Linked DNA regions of Homo sapiens. The protein of the gene in region 1 interacts with the protein of each later gene in a biochemical or structural test. Each region holds a gene or a part of one and is shown in the gene's direction. Other genes may lie near its edges.

The links. Proteins that work in one complex are often made in the same cells at the same time.
Region 2: of the proteins of PRKCG (region 1) and CASR, one has a biochemical effect on the other in vitro, tested with the Homo sapiens proteins (one study listed by BioGRID).
Region 3: of the proteins of PRKCG (region 1) and ARHGEF7, one has a biochemical effect on the other in vitro, tested with the Homo sapiens proteins (one study listed by BioGRID).

Annotation. Positions count from the first base shown.
Region 1 is NC_000019.10:53,878,070-53,885,217, forward strand, and holds the start of PRKCG (protein kinase C gamma type), read left to right. Parts: upstream 1-4,127; 5' UTR 4,128-4,425; coding exon 4,426-4,595; intron 4,596-5,093; coding exon 5,094-5,125; intron 5,126-6,091; coding exon 6,092-6,174; intron 6,175-7,148. UniProt on the Homo sapiens protein: Calcium-activated, phospholipid- and diacylglycerol (DAG)-dependent serine/threonine-protein kinase that plays diverse roles in neuronal cells and eye tissues, such as regulation of the neuronal receptors GRIA4/GLUR4 and GRIN1/NMDAR1, modulation of receptors and neuronal functions related to sensitivity to opiates, pain and alcohol, mediation of synaptic function and cell survival after ischemia, and inhibition of gap junction activity after oxidative stress.
Region 2 is NC_000003.12:122,179,800-122,186,693, forward strand, and holds the start of CASR (extracellular calcium-sensing receptor isoform 2 precursor), read left to right. Parts: upstream 1-3,868; 5' UTR 3,869-4,013; intron 4,014-4,527; exon of another isoform or gene 4,528-4,730; intron 4,731-6,894. UniProt on the Homo sapiens protein: G-protein-coupled receptor that senses changes in the extracellular concentration of calcium ions and plays a key role in maintaining calcium homeostasis.
Region 3 is NC_000013.11:111,300,310-111,306,258, forward strand, and holds the end of ARHGEF7 (rho guanine nucleotide exchange factor 7), read left to right. Parts: intron 1-438; coding exon 439-538; intron 539-1,168; coding exon 1,169-1,223; intron 1,224-2,681; coding exon 2,682-2,804; 3' UTR 2,805-5,423; downstream 5,424-5,949. UniProt on the Homo sapiens protein: Acts as a RAC1 guanine nucleotide exchange factor (GEF) and can induce membrane ruffling. Functions in cell migration, attachment and cell spreading. Promotes targeting of RAC1 to focal adhesions. May function as a positive regulator of apoptosis.

The DNA of each region.
Region 1 (7,148 bases):
GCTTACATTAGTAATGCAGCAAAGAGTAATATTAAAAGCTAATGATTAATAATGTTTATAATAATGATTGATAATTGTCCATGATCATCTCTACATCTAATTTGTATTATGACTATTCTTATTCTAACTATTTTGTTTATTATACTGAAACAGTTTGTGCCTTCAGTCTCTTGCCTGGGCACCTAGGTAATCCTCCGCCTACATATTTCCCGGACCTCAGGAGAATCACAAATACACAAATAAATATAAGCCCTACAAAATTCCCAGATCAGGCCCGGCGGGTGGCTCACGTCTGTAATCCCAGCACTTTGGGAGGCTGAGGCGGGTGGATCACGAGGTTAGGAGATCGAGACCATCCTGGCCAACATGGTGAAACCCCGTCTTTACTAAAAATACAAAAATTAGCCGGGCGTGGTGGAGGGCACCTGTAGTTCCAGCTACTCATGAGGCTGAGGCAGGAGAATCGCTTGAACCTGGGAGGCGGAGGTTGTAGTGAGCCGAGATCGCGCCACACTGCACTCCAGCCTGGGAGACAGAGCGGGACTCCGTCTGAAAAAAAAAAAAAAAAAAAAAAAAAAAAAATATATATATATATATATATATATATATATATATATATATATTCCATGATCAGCCGGCGCGGAGGCTCACGCCTGTAGTCCCAACACTGGGAGGACAAGGCGGGAGGATCGCTTAAGCCCAGGAGTTCAAGACCAGCCTGGGCAACACAGCAAGACCTCGTCTCTATTTAAAAAAAAGTTTTAAAGAAAATTCGATGATCACAGAACCCGCTATCTGCATCTACATCCGCAAAAGCAATTGGGGAGAGATACCGCAAGGGAGGGAAGGGTTCCCCTGGAAGGGGAGAAGGAAAGGCCAGCTGGGGCACACACTGTCGTTGGATGAGGAAAGGCCTCCTTTTCATTTCTGCAGCGTCCACTCTTGAGCTCCAACCCACTCCATCGCTGTCTTCTTAAAGGACGCCTCGCCCACCCTTCTCTCCCATCCCATGCCTGAATCCCTTCTGGAAGGCATCCGAAAGAACAGCTATAGAACTCTGGGGTGATACGTTGGTTAACTCGGGAAAGAACTCAAGGACACTGGACTAGAACGTGGTGGGATTCCTAGGTCGGTTTCGGGGCCATCCCCGCCGCCTATCCTTCGCCCTAGGTCACCTGGAGGTGGCTGGAAGGCCAGTGGACTCCACATTTAGGGAGAGTGGTTACAAGAGGACTCGGATTCCCCCACCTTCCCTTCGGCTTTGGGAATCCCAGGAAACCCGCCCCGAACCCCTGAAAAGTCCCAGAGAAGGTAAGCTGGGCGTCCAGAGTCCCTCCCAGGCGCCGCCGCAGCGTCCCGCCCAGCCTCGCGGGGCACGCCGGGAGGCGGAGTTCTCGGTCGTGTCCCGAGAGTGGCTGGTCCGCAGGCTCGGACTACCAGTCCCAGAATGCACTGCGCCCGCAGCCCGGGGCGGGCCGTGGTTGCCCCTGGCAACAGAGAGGGTCTCCCGGGAGCGGGGACTGGGAAGCGCTCCCGAGCCGGGGAGGCGCAGAGCCCGACCAGAGAGAGGCGGGGACGCGGGTAGAGCGACCAAGAGGTGTGGAGGCCGGAAGAGACTGACCGCGCCGGCCCTTGGAGAGACCCCTTTCCTGAGAGGGGGCGCACAGAGAGGATGCCGAAGCCAGCGAGATCTAGAGAGAGGGAGACAGGGATTGAATCACAGAGACACTTAGAGGGAGGGAGAGACCTCAAAGACAGAGAGATTCACAGGGCCAGAGAGACACGTAGAGTGGGTCAGAGAAGAGGACAGAGGACAGAGACATAGAAAAGACAGGAGGGAGAGAGACTGAATCACAGAGACACAGGGAGAGAGGGAGAGACCTCAGAGATGGAGAGAGACTCACAGGGCCAGATAGACACATGGAGTGGGTCAGAGAAGGGGACAGAGAGAGAGACACAGAAAAGGGAAGAGGGAGAGAGACTGAATCACAGAGACACAGAGAGGGAAGTCTCTATCTAGAGACCCTCGACAGAGATTCCTAGAGCCAGAGACAGAGATTCAGAGAGCCAGAGACACAGAGAGATTCATAGAGACATATAGAGAGATTCAGAGAGCCTGAATCACAGAGATTCACAGAGCCAACGAGACAAACAGAGAGATTCATAGAGCCAGAGACACAGATTCGGAGAGTCAGAGAGACATAGAAAGATTCATAGAGCCAGAGACACAGAGATTCAGAGAGTCAGAGAGACATAGAGAGACATTCATAGAGCCAGAGACACAGAGAGATTCATAGACATATAGAGAGATTCAGAGAGCCTGAATCACAGAGATTCACAGAGCCAAAGAGACAAACAGAGAGATTCATAGAGCCAGAGACACAGAGGGATTCGGAGAGTCAGAGAGACATAGAAAGAGATTCATAGAGCCAGAGACACAGAGATTCATAGAGACATAGAGATTCATAGAGCCAGAGACACAGAGATTCAGAGAGTCAGAGAGACATAGAAAGACATTCATAGAGCCAGAGACACAGAGAGATTCAGAGTCAGAGAAACATAGAGATTCATAGAGCCAGAGACACAGAGAGATTCAGAGTCAGAGAGACATAGAGAGACATTCATAGAGCCGGAGACACAGAGAGATTCAGAGTCAGAGAGACATAGATTTATAGAGCCAGAGACACAGATTCAGGGAGTCAGAGAGACATAGAGAGACATTCATAGAGCCGGAGACACAGATTCAGAGTCAGAGAGACATAGACATTCATAGAGCCAGAGACACAGATTCAGAGAGTCAGAGAGATGAATAGATTCAGAGAGCCAGAGACACAGGGAGAGTGAATCACAGACACAGAGGGACGGGGAGATCCCCAGAAACAGAAAGAGATTCATAGAGCCAGAGAGACAAATAGAGATTGGGTCAGAGAGAAAGGGACAGAGACAGAGACAGAGAAGAGAAGAGGGAGAGAGATTGGGTCAGAGAGAAAGGGACAGAGACAGAGAAGAGAAGAGGGAGAGAGAGACTGAGTCATAGACAGGAGAGAGACCCCCCTAGCATCAGAGAGAGAGAGAGAGATCAACAGAGCCAGAGAGGGACAAGTACAGAGAAACAGATGGAACCAGAGAGATATAGGAAGAGACAAACAAAAACAGAGACGGAGTTGCAGAACCGGAGGAAGGGAGAGAGACAGAGACAAAGGCATTTATAAAGACGGGTGGAGGTGAGGAGAGAGAGGGAGAGACAGGGGCAAGCATTTAGAGAGTGACTCCCAGAGAGGAAGACAGAGACGGACTCCCAAAGAGATCAAGTTGCAGAGGGAGGGGGAGACAGAGTCACAGCCTGAGAGAGAATAGAGATTCACAGAGCCAGAGAGACAAAGACAGGGAAAGAAACAAACTCAGGGAGACAGAGGCGGAAGAATTTATCAGACGTAGAGGGAGAGACAGAGGGAGACTGATTCACAGTGAGGCAGACCAAGACCCCGAGAAGAACCACGACACCAAGACCCAGAGATGGCGACAGATACAGATGGAGACACACAGCAGAGGAAATAGAGAAATAGAAAGAAATAGAAACAGCATTTCTCGGAGACAGGGAAAAGAAAACAGATCCACTGAGAGGCAGAAACAGAGACACATCGAGAAAGCTCGCTCCAGGAATAGAGGGAGAGGGACAGAGGTCACAAGAAAGACACACGCAGGCAGAGAGCTACACAAATAATGGAGAGGCCAGGGGAGGAAATAAAGACTCAGCCGGCATCGGAGAAAGTGAGAACCTTAGCGCCCTGCCTGTCCACTGCTGGACCCCTAGCGTGGAGCATAAAGTTTGTTGAAGGAAGGAGAGGGGCAGGGTCAGACACAGGGACCCCAGGGCGCCCACAGGACACACGAGGCACCCTAGTGGGGGAGGAACGCGGGGCAGGATGACAGATTGCAGGGTGGTGGGGGGGAGCCAGGCTCAGAGGATGCCCCTCCCTCCAGCCAGCCCCCGGAGTGGGTGTGTGCACGTGTGGGGGGCGGGGAGGGAGGACATTTGTCCCGTGTCTCCGGGAGGGGAGCGCCTTTAAGCCGAAACCCCGCCCTCTCGGTCGTCCTGGCAACGCCTCCCCCAACCCGGGGCTCCCACATTTCAGCAGGTGCCGGAGCTGGAGCTCCCACCGCCGCCGCCCGTGCCTCCGGCTGCCGGCGCCCCTGCCTTTGGCTCTTCCTCCCCACTCGCCCGCTCCCCCTGGCGGAGCCGGCGCGCCCGGGGTGCCGCTCCCTGCCTGGCGCGCTCCGCACCTGGAGGTGCCTTGCCCCTCTCCTGCCCACCTCGGAATTTCCCTGTGGCTCCTTTGATCCTTCGAGTCTCCAGCTCCTCTCCCTTCCACCTGTTTCCCCCAAGAAAGGCAGGATCCTGGTCCCTGCTACGTTTCTGGGGCCATGGCTGGTCTGGGCCCCGGCGTAGGCGATTCAGAGGGGGGACCCCGGCCCCTGTTTTGCAGAAAGGGGGCCCTGAGGCAGAAGGTGGTCCACGAAGTCAAGAGCCACAAGTTCACCGCTCGCTTCTTCAAGCAGCCCACCTTCTGCAGCCACTGCACCGACTTCATCTGGTGAGGGAAGGGGGCTGGGGGACTGGGGGACGAGGGGACTAGGGGTGCAGACTCCTATCACGCCGACCCCTGTGGAAGGAAGAAGGAGGGGGCTGTAGTCCCGACTCCCAGGTTCTAGGATGGCCAGGGAACGCTGGGAGCTTCGACTCCTGGGTTTCAGTGAGGAGGAGGCTGGTTCCTGGAGTGCTGGGTCCGAGGGAGGAGGAGGCTGGAGGACAGAGGTCCTGGAGTCTTGGGTCTGAGGGAGGAAGGGCCTGGGGGGCTGGGAGCCTGGATTCCTGGGTCTGAAGGAGGAAGAAACTGGGGGCTGAACTCCAGTCTAAGGGAAGAAGGGCTGGGGGCCAAAATTTCTGGGTTCTAGAAAGAGGAGGTGGCCGGGGCTTGGACACCTGGGCCCTGCGGGAGGAGGGTCAGAGAGCGCAGGCCCCCTGTGGCTCGCAGAGGTTGGGGGTCCAGGTACCCCTTTCTGCACTGACCTAGGATCCCTGACTCTTCCAGGGGTATCGGAAAGCAGGGCCTGCAATGTCAAGGTAAGAGCTGGGGACCGGGGCTCCTGGGACCCTCAGGAGGGTGGAGGCTGGGGCCCCACAGCTGAGGCTGCTTGACACACGTGTTCTCTGGTCCCCAGAGAGGCGCGGGGGAGCCCGGGGCGGGGGGTGTGGCAGAGACACAGCCTGTGGTGGGGAGGGAGCTTTGATGGTGGGGCCACCGCGGAGGTGGTGCTGGGGGCCCCTCCCTCGGCCGGCTCCAGGTGGGGACAGATATTTGGAGAATCTGTTGCCATGGGAACATGGAGATTTGGAAAAGGGGAGCTGAAGGGGGGAAGGGGGAGGGGGCTGGAGATGCAAAGTCAGAGCCCCCCCCCACCCCAGGCTGCCGTCGCCATGACAACACCAGCCGTCCTAGGCAGGGGCAGGCCGGGTGGGGTCACCAATGGGCGAGTGGGGGCCGGGCGGGGCCGGCAGTTCTGGGGGGCGGGAGAGGGGGGCGAGTCCTTGAGCACCAGCTGCTACTGCTGAGAACAGAGTGAGTCAGGGTGGGGGGCGGGCCGGCAGCAGCGCCCCCAGACTCACTTCTGCCCAAGTTGCTGCTTCCTGGGCTGCGTCTGAAGATATTTCGGTTTTCGCTCTTTGAATCTGTCTGCCTCTCTCCTGGCTTTCTGATCTCCGTCCGTGGGCCTGTGTCTGTTTGTCAATGGGATCCTATTTTCTTTCTCTCTTTTTCCATCTCCCTTCCCTGAGCTCTGTGCTCTGTGTCTCTCTGTAAGTCTCTGCGTCTCTGTTTCTGACTCTGAGCCCATCTCTTGGGTTTCTGTCTCCTGCTTCTCTCTCTGGCCTCCGATTTTCTCTCTGTTGGACTCTCTGTGTTGAGATCCCTCTCTTTCTGGTTTTCTCAGTGTCCGAGTTCCGCTCTCTCTTTCCAATTTTCTGTCTGCTGGGGTCTCCCGCTGGACTAATCCATGCCTCCGTCTGTGTCTCTATGATTTTCATCTATAGTCTGCAGCTTTGTGGTTCATCGACGATGCCACGAATTTGTGACCTTCGAGTGTCCAGGCGCTGGGAAGGGCCCCCAGACGGACGTGAGTGCTCGGACACCTGGTTCTCCTCCTCGGGCCGTGCCCCCGCCCTCACCCCCTCGGCGTCCGTCCCAATTTCTCCTGCTATTTTTATGGCTGGGAGGGGAGGGGGGCTGGAGAGATAGGGGGAGCTATCTGGCCCAGATTCCTTGCCCTTGGCCTGGAAAGGGGGAATGCGAGGGGGACTGACAGGCTGGGGACACGGGTGGGGCACAGAGAGGAGGCCGGGGTGAGGAGACTGAAGATGGGTGCTGCCGGGGGTGGGCTGTGATCCAGGGGTGAAGGGATTTAAAAATTGAGAGCTGAGGGGCACACGGAGAAAAATATCAGTGCAGGTGCGGAGATGCCAACATAAGACAGAGGGAATCTCAGGGAGAGGAACAGAGACAGAAGAAGACAGAGACCTAGGAGAGACTGAAGCTGAGGCAGAGAGAGAGAGAGATGGAGCAGAGAAAGAACCAGGGAGAAAGAGAGGAATTTGGAGGCACCAAAAGATGGACAGAGAAACTCCAAGAGACGGAGACACAGACACCTGGAGAAAGAGACTAAAATAGAAAATGGTGGATACAGACAACAGCTTAGGAGATGCTGAGAGGAGACCCAGGGAAGTCCCACAGTACACTTGCACACATGTGCGTGCATGTACAGATGCCCCTGTCATCACAGATGTGCAGCACGCAGAGACACACAGCCTCTCCCCACCCCCTCTCTCTCCATCAGAGGCTCACAAGACCAGTCAACCCTGAGTGCCCATTCCCGTTCCCTTTTCTGCTTTATCTCTGAGCCTCAGTTTCCTCCTCTATAAAATGGGGCTGATGATCTAGCATTGACCAACAGAACTGTTTACAGTGACGGAAGCATTCTGTACATGCACTGTCCAATAGGCAGCCACCAGCTCCATGTAGCCAGTGAGCACTTGAAACAGGGCGACTGTGGCTGAGGATTAGAAATTCCATTTCGTGTCATTTGAATTGGCT
Region 2 (6,894 bases), on another chromosome or scaffold:
GACTCCATCTCAAAAAAAGAAATACAAAAAAATAGCCGGGCATGGTGGTGCGTGCCTGTAATCCCAGTTACTCAGGAGGCTGAGGCAGGATAATAGCTTGAACCCAGGAGGTGGAGGTTGCAGTGAGCCAAGATTGTGCCACTGCACTCCAGCCTGGGCCACAGAGTGAGACTCCATCTAAAAAAAAATAACAAAACAAAATTTAAAAATTAAATAAAATTGTTTTCGATGCTACAATTTGCTCTAACCACTCTGTGACTCCATCTCCACCACCAATTTTATTGTTCTCAAGCCATCAGTAAAGTTTACAACACCCCAAAAACGCAGGGTAAGGAAACAGTGATGGAGTAAGATGAAAGAGGGGCTATGTCATTTATGAGATAGGAAAGCCAAAGGAATACCTCTCTGAATAGAGAGCAAAAGAAGGGAGGGATCACAAGGTTAGGAGTTCGAGACAAGCCTGACCAACATGGTGAAACCCCATCTCTACTAAAAATACAAAAATTAACCAGGCATAGTGGCATGCACCTGTAATCCCAGCTACTCAGGAGGCTGAGGCAGGAGAATCGCTTGAACCTGGGAGTCAGAGGTTGCAGTTAGCCGAGATTGTGTCACTGCACTCCAGCCTGGGTGACAGAACAAGACTCAGTCTCCAAAAAAAAAAAAAAAAAGAGGGAGAAGAGAGCTCCAGACTGAGAGAAGGAAATGCAAAGGTCCAACACAGGGTATGCTGGGCACATCCAAAGACCAGCAAGGAAACCAGTATGTGTGAAGACAAGGAAGCTGGTAGAGAGATCAGAGACACAGCCAGGACCCACATGATGATGGCCTTAATGGGCCATGAAATTTACTGAATTTCACTCTGAGACAGGAATCCATTACAGACATGGTTTTGAGCAGGGAAATGACCGAATCCAATTTTATTTTTAAATGTGTCATTGCAGTTGCTTTGGGAAGAACAGCCTGTAGGAAGGCAAGGTCAGTGCAGGAAAACCAGATAGGAGGTTTTCTAAGAGAAAGATGATGCCAGCTTGGATAGGGCTGGTAGTGGTGGAGGTAGGAAAAAGAGGTTGAGTCTGGATGTATTTTGAAAGTCAATCCATCAGGACTTGTAGATGGGTTGGAGATAGTAAGTGAGGAAAAGAGAGGCATCAGAGGTGTCTCAGTAAAGAATTTCCTAATCCAATTGAACAAGCTTCCCCTGATGTAGCTCCTCCAGTGGAAGCATTTAGTCCTTTCACTGGACTGTCTGAATGGTCTTTTCCCTACAGCTTATCTGCCCTATATGTTCCCAAGTGGCTTTCTGTTCTTAGCAGTCAGGGGCCCAGGTGATGTCTACTCACCAAATATTCTTGAACCATAAGGCAATCAGATTATGGTTTTGTACATTATGGATTTTCAGACTTTATGGTTTCAAAATAAATTTCCTATACCAAAGATACTTTTTAACTGCTGGGGACCCTATAAACCCTTTTTTCCCCACACATCCATTTTAATACTAGTCCAAAGGGTTAAAAAAATAGCAAGGGGAGCTGCCTTAGGGGAAACAGAGGCCACACGATATGGAATTTGGGGATGGGAAATGCTGGAACATGAAAGGAAGGAGGAACAGCCCCACCATCTTGGCCCTCGGGGATGTTAGGAATAGAGGGTATACCAAAAGAAGGTGTAAGGGAGTAAATGATTGAAGTGTAAACCTCCCAAATGTTGTCTCTTTCAAAAGTTACCTTAGAGAGAATCTGCTAGTGCTCTGTTAATTATACCATGGTCACAGAGGTGCTGCTATTGTTCTGAGCTTACTTGGAACCCTTTTTTTGGATCTGTCCAAAAGGAGTGAATGTAACTTGCTCCAAAATCTGTGTTTCTAGAGGTTAGATACCTGAGAAGCCCTGCTGTCAAGAATCCCAGATTCTCCTGGTTGGCAGGAACTTTAAAGCTTCTAGCCACAGCGTTTGAGCTCCCAAGGCTGTCCTTCAGCATCTTCCCAGGCAGCCCTGATTCATTGTGGACTGAAACCTTTCTGTCATTCCTTCTATCCACTGGTCATAATAGAGTATGGGCTTGTATTTCCAAAATTTAAACATCACTGGTCCTATTAGTTCTTTTAGATCTTTCTTTCAAGTTGCTCATTTTTCTCATATAAGAAAATTTACCTTAAATGGAAACCACATCACTTTGTCAGTGGAAAACTATGTCAATTGGAACTTAACTGCATAAGGAATAATAACAGATGGAAGAGAAAACAATGATATTAAATTCTACTTAGGAGCTGTTGCCTAGCAAAGGTTCTGAGTGAGAGGCAACCTCTGTCTTTGTTAAAACAGGAGATTAGCAAGTGTTACAGAGGGGTGCAAAGACAAATACTACAAAAATGATACTCCTTCCTTGACATAATCCATAGGAACAAAAGAAGTAAAAAGGGCATATCTTTTTTCACCTTGTGATCCACTGTTATCTAATTGTATTGTCTGTGTACCACCCAATACCATGCTTCCAATCTCTACTGGAAGATGTACACACTGGGACACACTGGTAAAGTGATCAAGCACCAGGACTGTAAGTCAAGCTGATCAGGTTCAGCTCTTGGCTCTGCCAACTCCTAGCCACCCAACCCTAAATACCTGAAACTGTATGCATCAGTTTCTTCGTCTTTAAAATGGAAGCAATAATAGATCTTCAGAGTAATACTTTCTTAAAGATAGTGCCCAAATTTGGACATTATGCCCAGGTGTAATCCGACCAGTGAAGAGCATCAGTTCAGCCTAAGATTGCAGCCTCATTCGGGTTTTGAACTGAACTCGTTCAGCCTTTGGGTGTTCACAAAGCTGTGCTTGTAGCCAACTAAAATAAAATCTAAGGTATTTTGATAGGCACCACTACTGAGCCACATCCTCCATTACTTACATTGCTGGGTGTTTCGGCCTGAGGGAGGACTTCACATTTATTCCTATTAACCAGATTTTGCCCCCTTCACTGGTGCTTTAGCATTTGCTCAGCTCCTTCTCCTACCCTGTATTTGAGGGAAAGGAAGCCAAATGGGCAGAACTTGGCCATAATGAGGATGTGTTTGACATGCTGGATTTGAGTCTGTGTTCCATTGAAGAAAAGAAATGGAAACTTTGTTGAGTATCCATTCTATACAGGGCACTTTCCTTGACTATTTCATTTAACACTCCAAGGACCCCCTGAGGTAGATGTTATCGCCATTTTGCAGAGAAGAAATCTGCATTTTTATTTGAAGTTCTTAAACATGGTAAACGACCCAATTTTCTGCTTTTTGCTTAACAGTATTTTGCAAACATTTTATCATGTTACTTCATGTTTTCCTATTTTTTTTTTGCTTTATAAATAAATACATACTCCCTCCTTATTCTAAAAAGAATTTGAAGCACTTCTGTCTTGATGTTTATCATTTTAATGGTTGTATAATGTCCCATTAAGTCACCCTAATTTATTCAACAAATTTCCTACTGTTGACAGTTTGGCTCTGTTTGCTTTTTGTGGTTTTTAAAATTATTTTCTGTAACAAATGATCCTGCTAAAAAAAAAATCTCCGCACGAATATTATTTTGTTCTGGAAATTTCCGCAAGGGTGGAATACTGCATTAAAGGGGATAATATTTTTGGTGTTTCTTTATAGAGCCTAGCAAATTGCCCACCCAAAGGAGTATGCTTTATTTGAGAGTAAAAAGCCAAAAACAAACAAACACATACAAAAAAACTGGTTTTCTACAAAAGAAATTAATTTTCCACTTATTCATAAAATATTCTAGTGCTGTGATGGGTGGCAGGCACCGTGCCAGGGGCTAGGGACAAGGATAAGCAAGGCCAGGTCCGGGCCTCCAAGCAGCGCGCTGTGGAGTCGGGTAGAGTAGACCAAGTGCAACAGGCACCTGGCTGCAGCCAGGAAGGACCGCACGCCCTTTCGCGCAGGAGAGTGGAAGGAGGGAGCTGTTTGCCAGCACCGAGGTCTTGCGGCACAGGCAACGCTTGACCTGAGTCTTGCAGAATGAGTAAGAGTTTGGGCACGCGATTTGTATTTATTTTACTGTGAATCTCTGGCCTTATATCAGAAAAAAAAAAATTGTGCCACCCTCGGCACAGAGAACGTTGGTGGCGTCGTAAGCGCCCTAAGCTTCTTTCCATCGCCAAGGAGTAGGGGTCAGGGAAGAGGACAGCGGGAACAGGATTTGAGAGCCGGGAACCCCTGGCTCGGCACGGGAGAGGGCAGGAGAGGACCTAAGCGCGGGGCTCGCCGTCTGCTGGGGACCCGAGCCGGCCTGTGGCCCTCGGGGAACCGAAGACGCGCCCTCAGCGACCCTGAAGAGTCAGCTAAGCTCTCTGCGGGCTAAGGAGACGGTGAAGGAACCGGGACTAACTGGGGTAGGGGTTAGAAGGCAGCCCGCGAGTGGGCTACGAGGGGAGCTGGGCTCGGCAGTTGGGGACCCCGAGGGGGCAAGCGGGCGGGGAGCAGGAGAGGGGCGGAGCTCCGGGGCCGGGGCCGGGGCCGCAGCGGCCGCCCAGAGGGTCTGCGGGGGCTGCTGTGGCCGGACCCGAAGGCGGGCGCCGGGAGCGCAGCGAGCCAGACGCGCCTCTCCAAGACCGTGACCTTGGCATAGGGAGCGGGGCTGCGCGCAGTCCTGAGATCAGACCAGAGCTCATCCTCGTGGAGACCCACGGCCGAGGGGCCGGAGCTGCCTCTGTGCGAGGGAGCCCTGGCCGCGGCGCAGGTAGGACCGGGGAACCCAAGGAGGGCGGGAGGAAAGCGCCCCTGGTGGGGGAGGGGCCGTGGCGGGGTCTGGGGGCCAAGGGCTCCGGGCCGAACGAGGGGCACACGCCGGAGCAGCTCCAGCCTGGGAGCATTGGGCGTGAACGTGGGGGAAAGTAGGGACCAGATTACAGGATCAAGGCTTTCCCCGGCTCAGAACTGGATTGTTCAGTGCCCCTAGAAGGGGCAGCGGGTCGCCCACGCGAATGAACGGGAGCGCGCACCAAAACGCCTGCTGTTGGTAGTTTCTTGTGCCTCTGCCTTGTTTCTGCCTGTGATATAGTCAGAAAGGACTCGCTTGCCACGTGTTAACAAGGGGACAGGTAGCTTTTACAGAGTGTATGAATATGGAGGGGAGGGCCACAGAGTCAGCTCTGGCCCCAGGGGCCGTCAGTGCCCCCACAGGATTCCTGGTCCAAGCTACCAGCTGTCTTGGGAACTTTGCTTCAGTGGCATCAAATTAGATTGTCAGTTCCCGGGGCCTGAGCACCAGCCTCCATGTGTATTTCCTGGGGAGAAAAAAAAAAGGCATACCAGACTGATGGAGTCTTATCATTATTTTAACATTATAGCTTTCAATAGATAACATGCATATGTTTCTTTTTTTAAGTCAAATAATACAAACATTTATCTTCTACAGGCAATGCGTGCACTAGCATGTGTGTCTATTGCTGTCTCCTTTCTACACCCATAGCCTTTCCCACTCTACGTGTTCTGTCGCCGTCTTTTGATTCTTTATCCAGAAAATGATGTCACCACCACTGCCCACATCCCTTAATCTCCAGTGTTCCTCCTTGCAACGCCTCTCTTGTCCTCAAATATTTTTCACAAGGTGGTCCTCAGGGTAGGGAGCCTACTAACGAGAAGACATTTCGTTTACTTGCTTCAATTATCCCAGAGATTTGAAGAAAAGGCACATTGGGGAAGAGTCCATGTCAAGTTCTAAACACACTTATCTTTCCCCTTAAACTGGATCTTCCAAGTGCAGTTTAGGTAGTCTGTTACTGAGAGAAATAATGCAGGCTGTTTTCTGAAATGCTCTGGATTTCCAGAACTTAACACCACAGTAGTTCCTATTCCTTAAAACAGAACTTCATCAGTCACACCTTGCTGTTGCTTTTCCCATCTCCACTCCAGGATTCCCTAACTGGCATGCCTAGGATTTTTCCTCTGTAGGAACCTGGGAGAGCGGGTGCTTTATACCTGCCTCCCAGGTGTCCAATGAAGGGGCTGAGGGACAAAGCTTTGTGGTGGACAAAAGGGGAGGGGAAGATGTAGGAGAAGTTGGAGGGGAAGTAGGAAGGAAGAAGCAGGCCAAGACCCTTGAGTAGAGAAGACTCCTCAAGCACAGAGCCCTGTCATTTGGGAACAGTCTCCATATAATTTCTAAGAGACCACACATGCGAGTTACTTCCTGCCAATACAGCACAGTCAGCTCTGTTCCAAGACTTCTATGCTAGACCAAAACATAGTAAGTGAAAAAAAAAAATCAGCAAATCAACCAGTTTTTGTCTCTATGATAAAACAGAGTGGTTGAAATTAAATTAGTTAAAAATTTTCTTTTTTACTGAATTAGCAGGTTCTTTAGGAGCTGTGTCCATTGTTTAAAATCACCTAATAGGTACTCCAGTCTCCACATTTTTCCTTTATTTTGTTTATCTTTTCATATTGCATAACCTTGAACTGGATCCCAACCATGTCAGAAAGTTCAGGCTGATTAGAAGCTGCCACTTCTAAGACTTTTTGGTGGAAGAGAGTGGGGAGGAGAGGGTGAGAAAATAATGACTGATCCTTGTGATAGGGTAGGGGTATAATGAAGAGGAAGAAGTTAACTACAAGTTTGAGACTGGTGAGGAGTTGCATATAATTCTTAAGATAACACGGCAATAAGTAAGTAAGAGGTAAAAAAATCATTCATCATTCATCATTCAAAATGTTTATAGAGTGCCTGGCTATGTGCCAGTCACTGGGAACTAACTGGTATATAAAACCAGGTGAGGTCCCTGCTCTCCTGGAGCTTACAGATGCTTTGGGGTGGCAGCTGTTAGGAAAATAAATATTGACTATATGTTATTACAAACTAAGATAAACTGTCTGAAGGAAAGAAACGAAGTTCTTTGAGGGTG
Region 3 (5,949 bases), on another chromosome or scaffold:
GTAGAGTAAAATGTTTTTATTGCCAGATCTTTGATGTATAAACACTCACTGTATATGTTCTGATTGGTCTCATATGTCTTTGCTGAAACTCTTGGAATAATGGCTCAAAATGGGATGAATATCCAGAGCAGTACAGTCACAACCTTTAACTTCCTCCCTGTTGAAAATGCTGGGGTTTCAACAATCCGTAATTCCGATTTGAAAAGGGCTACAGTTTCCTTCCCTCTCTGGCTTTGGTCATGAGGAGGCCTGGGCTCGGTAGACAGAGGTGAAGAGAACTGGTAAAAGATGCCCTCCTCTAGCTTGCCTGGATGAACGTTTTTAAATGCATAATTGCTAGAACTTAATATTTAAGTGACATGGTATAGTCAAGTTGTTTTTCTTCATTCTGCCATGGTATTCGCCTGAGGTTTATTTATTATTTTTTCATGATCCTAGGTTCACGCAAAGAATCTGCTCCACAAGTTTTGCTTCCAGAAGAAGAGAAAATTATAGTGGAAGAAACTAAAAGTAATGGTCAGACAGTGATAGAAGAAAAGTAAGATGTCTTCCGGTATTCTAAAGCAGATGTTTGACCTCTGCGGTGGGGTAGTAGAGTCCAGACAACTCCCTGAGGGCGGGGGTATGGCTTCAGAAGCTTCACTTTTTTTTTTTTTGAGACGGAGTGTCACTCTTGTCACCCAGGCTGGAGTGCAATGGTGCGATCTCAGCTCACTGCAACCTCCACCTTCCGGGTTCAAGCGGTTCTCCTGCCTCAGCCTCCCGAGTAGCTGGGATTACAGGCCTGTGCCACCACGCCTGGCTAATTTTTGTATTTTTAGTAGAAACGAGTTTTCACCCTGTTGGCCAGGCTGGTCTCAAACTCCTGACCTCAGGTGATCTGCCCGCCTCGGCCTCCCAAAATGCTGGGATTACAGGTGTGAGCCACTGTGCCTGGCCAGAGCTTCACTTTTAAAATGTCTTCATAGGCTGAAGTTGCCCTTGACTAGGCTTGAACCTGCCATGCACAGAGGTTGGCAGTTTTTAGTTGTGAATGTAGACAGTACATGGGTAAGGCAGAGCAGCTCCGTGTCCTCCTCTCAGCATCGTAGTGTCTCCTGGTAAGTTTTCGTGTGTCCTCTCCATGCCTCACCTTGTTCATGTGTGTGTGTTCTGTTTCCTGTTTCAGGAGTCTTGTGGATACCGTATATGCATTAAAGGATGAAGTTCAAGAATTAAGACAGGTACGTCATAATCCATCTTTAAATCTTTTTTTTCTTTTCAAATGGGAGAAAAGAAGAAAATTACATTAAAAATAAGCTGGCTGGGTACGGTGGCTCACACCTATAATCCCAGCACTTTAGAAGGCCGAGGTGGACAGATCACCTGAGGTCAGGAGTTCAAGACCAACCTCACCAACATGGCAAAAACCCATCTCTACTGAAAATACGAAAATTAGCTGGGCATAGCGGCAGGTGCCTGTAACCCAGCTACTTGGGAGGCTGAGGCAGGAGAATTGCTTGAACCTAGGAGGCGGAGGTTGCTGTGAGCCGAGATTGTGCCACTGCACTCCAGTCTGAGCCACAGAGCAAGACTCCGTCTCAAATAAAAATAAAAAGCTGATTGTCCATAAGCAAAAAACTAAAAGGAGGTCATGTCTTTGAGAAGTCCAGCAGATAAAATAATTGGTTGTCTCTAAAGTGACTTGTTTAAACTCTTTTTTTTTTCTTAACAATACTGATTTTGATGTCATAAAACATCGCAAATTCTGTTGGAAGAATAATTTAAAATATCGAAAGTTCTGTCTGGTGACAAATCCTGCGAGGCGCCCCTGAGATTAGCCTCTGCCACTGCATGGTCCTTGGCTCCCGAAGCCAGGTTAGCGAGCCAGAAGTGGCGACTAACCAAGGGTGTTCTGGGTATTGCACGGAATGTGAGTATGAGCAGCTTTGGTCCTCTGCCCAGCTAGGCGAGGGAAGGTTGGGGTGTTCATTGCACGGAATGTGAGTACGAGCGGCTTTGGTCCTCTGCCCAGCTAGGTGAGGGAAGGTTGGGGTGTTCTTTTGGCCGAGGAACAGCCTGAGAAGAGTTGTGGTCTGGGATAGAGAGCTGAGAGCAGGTTGCTGTGTGGAACTGGACATGTGCTGTCATTCTAAGCAGTGTCCGCAGGTCTTCCAGGTACACCTTTGCCTGGCTGGCAGGCTTCCATGTTCACGCTTTGCCCCTACCGGCAGCAGGCATCTGTTTGTGCATGCCTCCTACGTCCGAGACATGCCTGGGTTCAGCTGCACAGAGCAGGTGCTCGCCCACTTGCTCCTGCACCTGTCAGTGGCTGTTACTTCCAGTCCTTTCTGTAACTCTGGAAGGTGGTTATAAATGGACAAAAAGGCTGGATAGGAGCTGTCTCGTCCGCAGTTTCCAGCTATTTTCTTACGGTATGTTCTATAGAGATTCATTCATGGACTTAATAAGAGCCATTAGGACCATTTCCATCCCGGGAACAGCAGCACAGTCAGGAGCACCGCTGCCACCCTGTCCAGGTGTTTGACCTTCGTGGATCCCCACGACCTCAGAGCCCATAGGCAGCTCACGTGGGATTTCATGAATCGAGGCCTTAGCTCCTCAAGGATACACATTTGGGGAAAGGAAGCCCTACGCGATGCCAAAGATAGTGAACACCCTGTGGTCTGCTTAATTTACAGGACAACAAAAAGATGAAGAAATCTCTAGAGGAAGAACAGAGAGCCCGCAAAGACCTGGAGAAGCTGGTGAGGAAAGTCCTGAAGAACATGAATGATCCTGCCTGGGATGAGACCAATCTATAAGGGATGTCCTCAGTTCTTTCTGTTGAAGACCAGTTCTGAGGTGAAGCTGGGCACCCCTGACCCAAGTCGGGGTGCACTCAGGACCACAGGGCAGGGCTGGGTGGGGCGCCACCTTGCTCTCTGTATATAGAAAAGCTGGAGCTTATTCTGCGAATGGAGACGATCAAACCATGACTGATGAATCCAGACAGGAGGGATTGACTCTGAGGACCTGAGCTACATCAATCCACTCTGTGAACATCTCAGTTACCTCATTCTGCAATAAGTTCAGTGACTGACTAAAAGTCTTGTTTTTCCAGACTTTGAATTGAATATATAAATATTATATATACATGTTTCTTGTAAATATCCCATTTTGAATGCATACCTGTGGTGGTTCTGTCCGGGCTAATCCCCATGCTAGAATGTCCTTTCCAGCTACGTGAATAAGAAGTCCCATGCCCGCATCCACCGGAAGCAGAAGCCTGGTGGATGCCTGGTTCGTTCCGCAGCACCAGGGCCTCCACCGTGCTGTGGCAGCACCCCCCATGTCGGTATTTCTAAATAACCTTATTTATACCTGCAGAGATACACTTCAGTCCCATTCAGAAGTCTTCTCTTAAAGCAGCATTACAGTCCCAGACCTGCGGGTTTCTGAGGGCAACTTGCTGGCTGACAGACTCAGTCTTGACCTCAAGGAAGGCCCATACGGCACTGCCGCATCCACCTAGAGGTGTTTGCTCTTGTCCGCTGTCTGAGTACTGTGATTCTCAGATGAGTTTGCTGCGTTTTGGGAGGACACAGACGGTTCTGTATAGGCTAGTTCAGTAACAACAAAATACACTGTTTTGTCTTCCCTCAAAGAGAGATCTTACTAGAACCTGTAAATAGAATGTATTATTTATTATAAGTCACTGCAGCTGATGAAAACAGATGGAGGCCATGCTGCAGGCTGATACTGATGGGTGGAGTTTTGTCATCAGGCCAGCCTCATCCCGAGGTCTCCTCCACCATTGGCCGTAGCCAGCAGGCTTCAGTGCTCACCGAAAGTAAAATCCCCTCCTTCAGCAAGAATAAAGCAATATACACCTTAGGTTCCACTAAGTAACATAGGCATAAGCAGGGAACGTTTCCCCCACTGTGTTCCAGTGCAGAGGAGACGAAGCCTGTCCTCACCGCGGCTCGCTGGGCCCAGGCTGGCTCTGGAAAGCCTGTGCGGTCCTGGGCAGGAAGCCCGGCCCGTGGAGCAGGTTTTCGTTCTGCTTCAGCAATAAATAAGGGTGACCACAGGGACTTTGCTTTTGGTTTCCTTTCCTGTGAAAAGGTTGGTTTTAAAGTGAGATACACTTTTCCGTAGAACAAGTGTTCTATCTTTAAAAACCCAAATTGCAGCACCGTGGATTACTGGTCTCAGAACAACTCATTGCGCATCAGATTTGACTCTCTGATTTTCTGTCTATTGGCCAAATTGCCCTTTAACTGCACCTGAATCCTTTGTGTACTGATGCCTTTGAGCTGGGCACCTTGGGAGAGTGTTGTGTTGCTGTTTACGGTTCTTCCTTGCCCTTGCTAATTACAGTCTCTGGTGCCCAGCAAGCCCCTTTGGCTTCCTTCCGTGACTGGTCACGTTGTCTGCCTGGGCTCAGCGTGGACCTGCCCCATGCTGCAGAACCTGGCCTCACCTGGACTTTTCACTAGAATTGCCAGCTTCCTCAACTTAGCAGATCATTCACTCATGCGGGCACAAGCAAAGATCAACACTTTCTTTTTTGGTAAGCTTGAGTTTTACAAGTTATTTTTTGGTGATGCGTAAGACATTGCAGTGGGAAACCATTCAACTTGAGTTTATTGGAGTTTGCTGTTGTAGCAGGTTTTAACTCAGGAACAACTCTTGTCTGATCTCTCCGCCCCTCTGCCGGGAGGCGACATTAACTGTCCTCTCGGAGCCGGTAGCGTTGCTGTCCGAGTCCCCAGGACGGATCTCCTGCAGACCTGCCTTAATGCTCAGATCGAAGTATTTCACAAGAATACTTGTGTTTTTAACAGCCCTTCCCCTGGACGGTGCGGCCATGAGGGCCTCATGTTACGGCATTGCCTTTTCTTTCTGTGGATCCAGTATCTTCCTCGGCTTTTTAGGGAGCAGGAAAAATGCGTCTGAGAGCAACTCTTTTTAAAAACCTGCCCTGTTGTATATAACTGTGTCTGTTTCACCGTGTGACCTCCCAAGGGGGTGGGAACTTGATATAAACGTTTAAAGGGGCCACGATTTGCCCGAGGGTTACTCCTTTGCTCTCACCTTGTATGGATGAGGAGATGAAGCCATTTCTTATCCTGTAGATGTGAAGCACTTTCAGTTTTCAGCGATGTTGGAATGTAGCATCAGAAGCTCGTTCCTTCACACTCAGTGGCGTCTGTGCTTGTCCACATGCGCTGGGCGTCTGGGACCTTGAATGCCTGCCCTGGTTGTGTGGACTCCTTAATGCCAATCATTTCTTCACTTCTCTGGGACACCCAGGGCGCCTGTTGACAAGTGTGGAGAAACTCCTAATTTAAATGTCACAGACAATGTCCTAGTGTTGACTACTACAATGTTGATGCTACACTGTTGTAATTATTAAACTGATTATTTTTCTTATGTCACAGAATGTGTCGCTTCGTCTTCTTTGATGTGTTTTCTGTGTGCTTGTTAGCTTTACAGTTTCTTTGGGCTGTTTTAGATTTGAAAATTCTGTCTGTCTTTGATACTGAAGATAACATGTTTCCTTTAAAGTCTAGAGTTTGAGAAAATTTGAAGATTTTTTTTTAAAAGACAAGGAAAGAACACTGGAAGTCTTAGGAACAAAAGCTGAAGTAACAGGTCACGCTGGTAGGCACAGCCCCCAGGTCCTCACCCATGCCTGGAGGAATGACCTGCATTCTGGAAGGCGCTCAGGACACCGTTTTGTGGGATCAAGTAAGCGAAACTTTCTTGAAGATATCTGTGGGGTCCCTTTTAGGAGCTGTCATAAGACAAAAGGAAATTGCTCGTGTGTGTCCCTGTGTGGCGGTGGTGCAAACGAGGGTGTCTTCCGGAAGGGTGGCCGGGAGGACCAAGCGGGGTCTCCTGTCCATGGTCCGTGTACCTGGCTCAGGTGTGTCTACAGCTCCGCTGCATGTCATTTCAGCC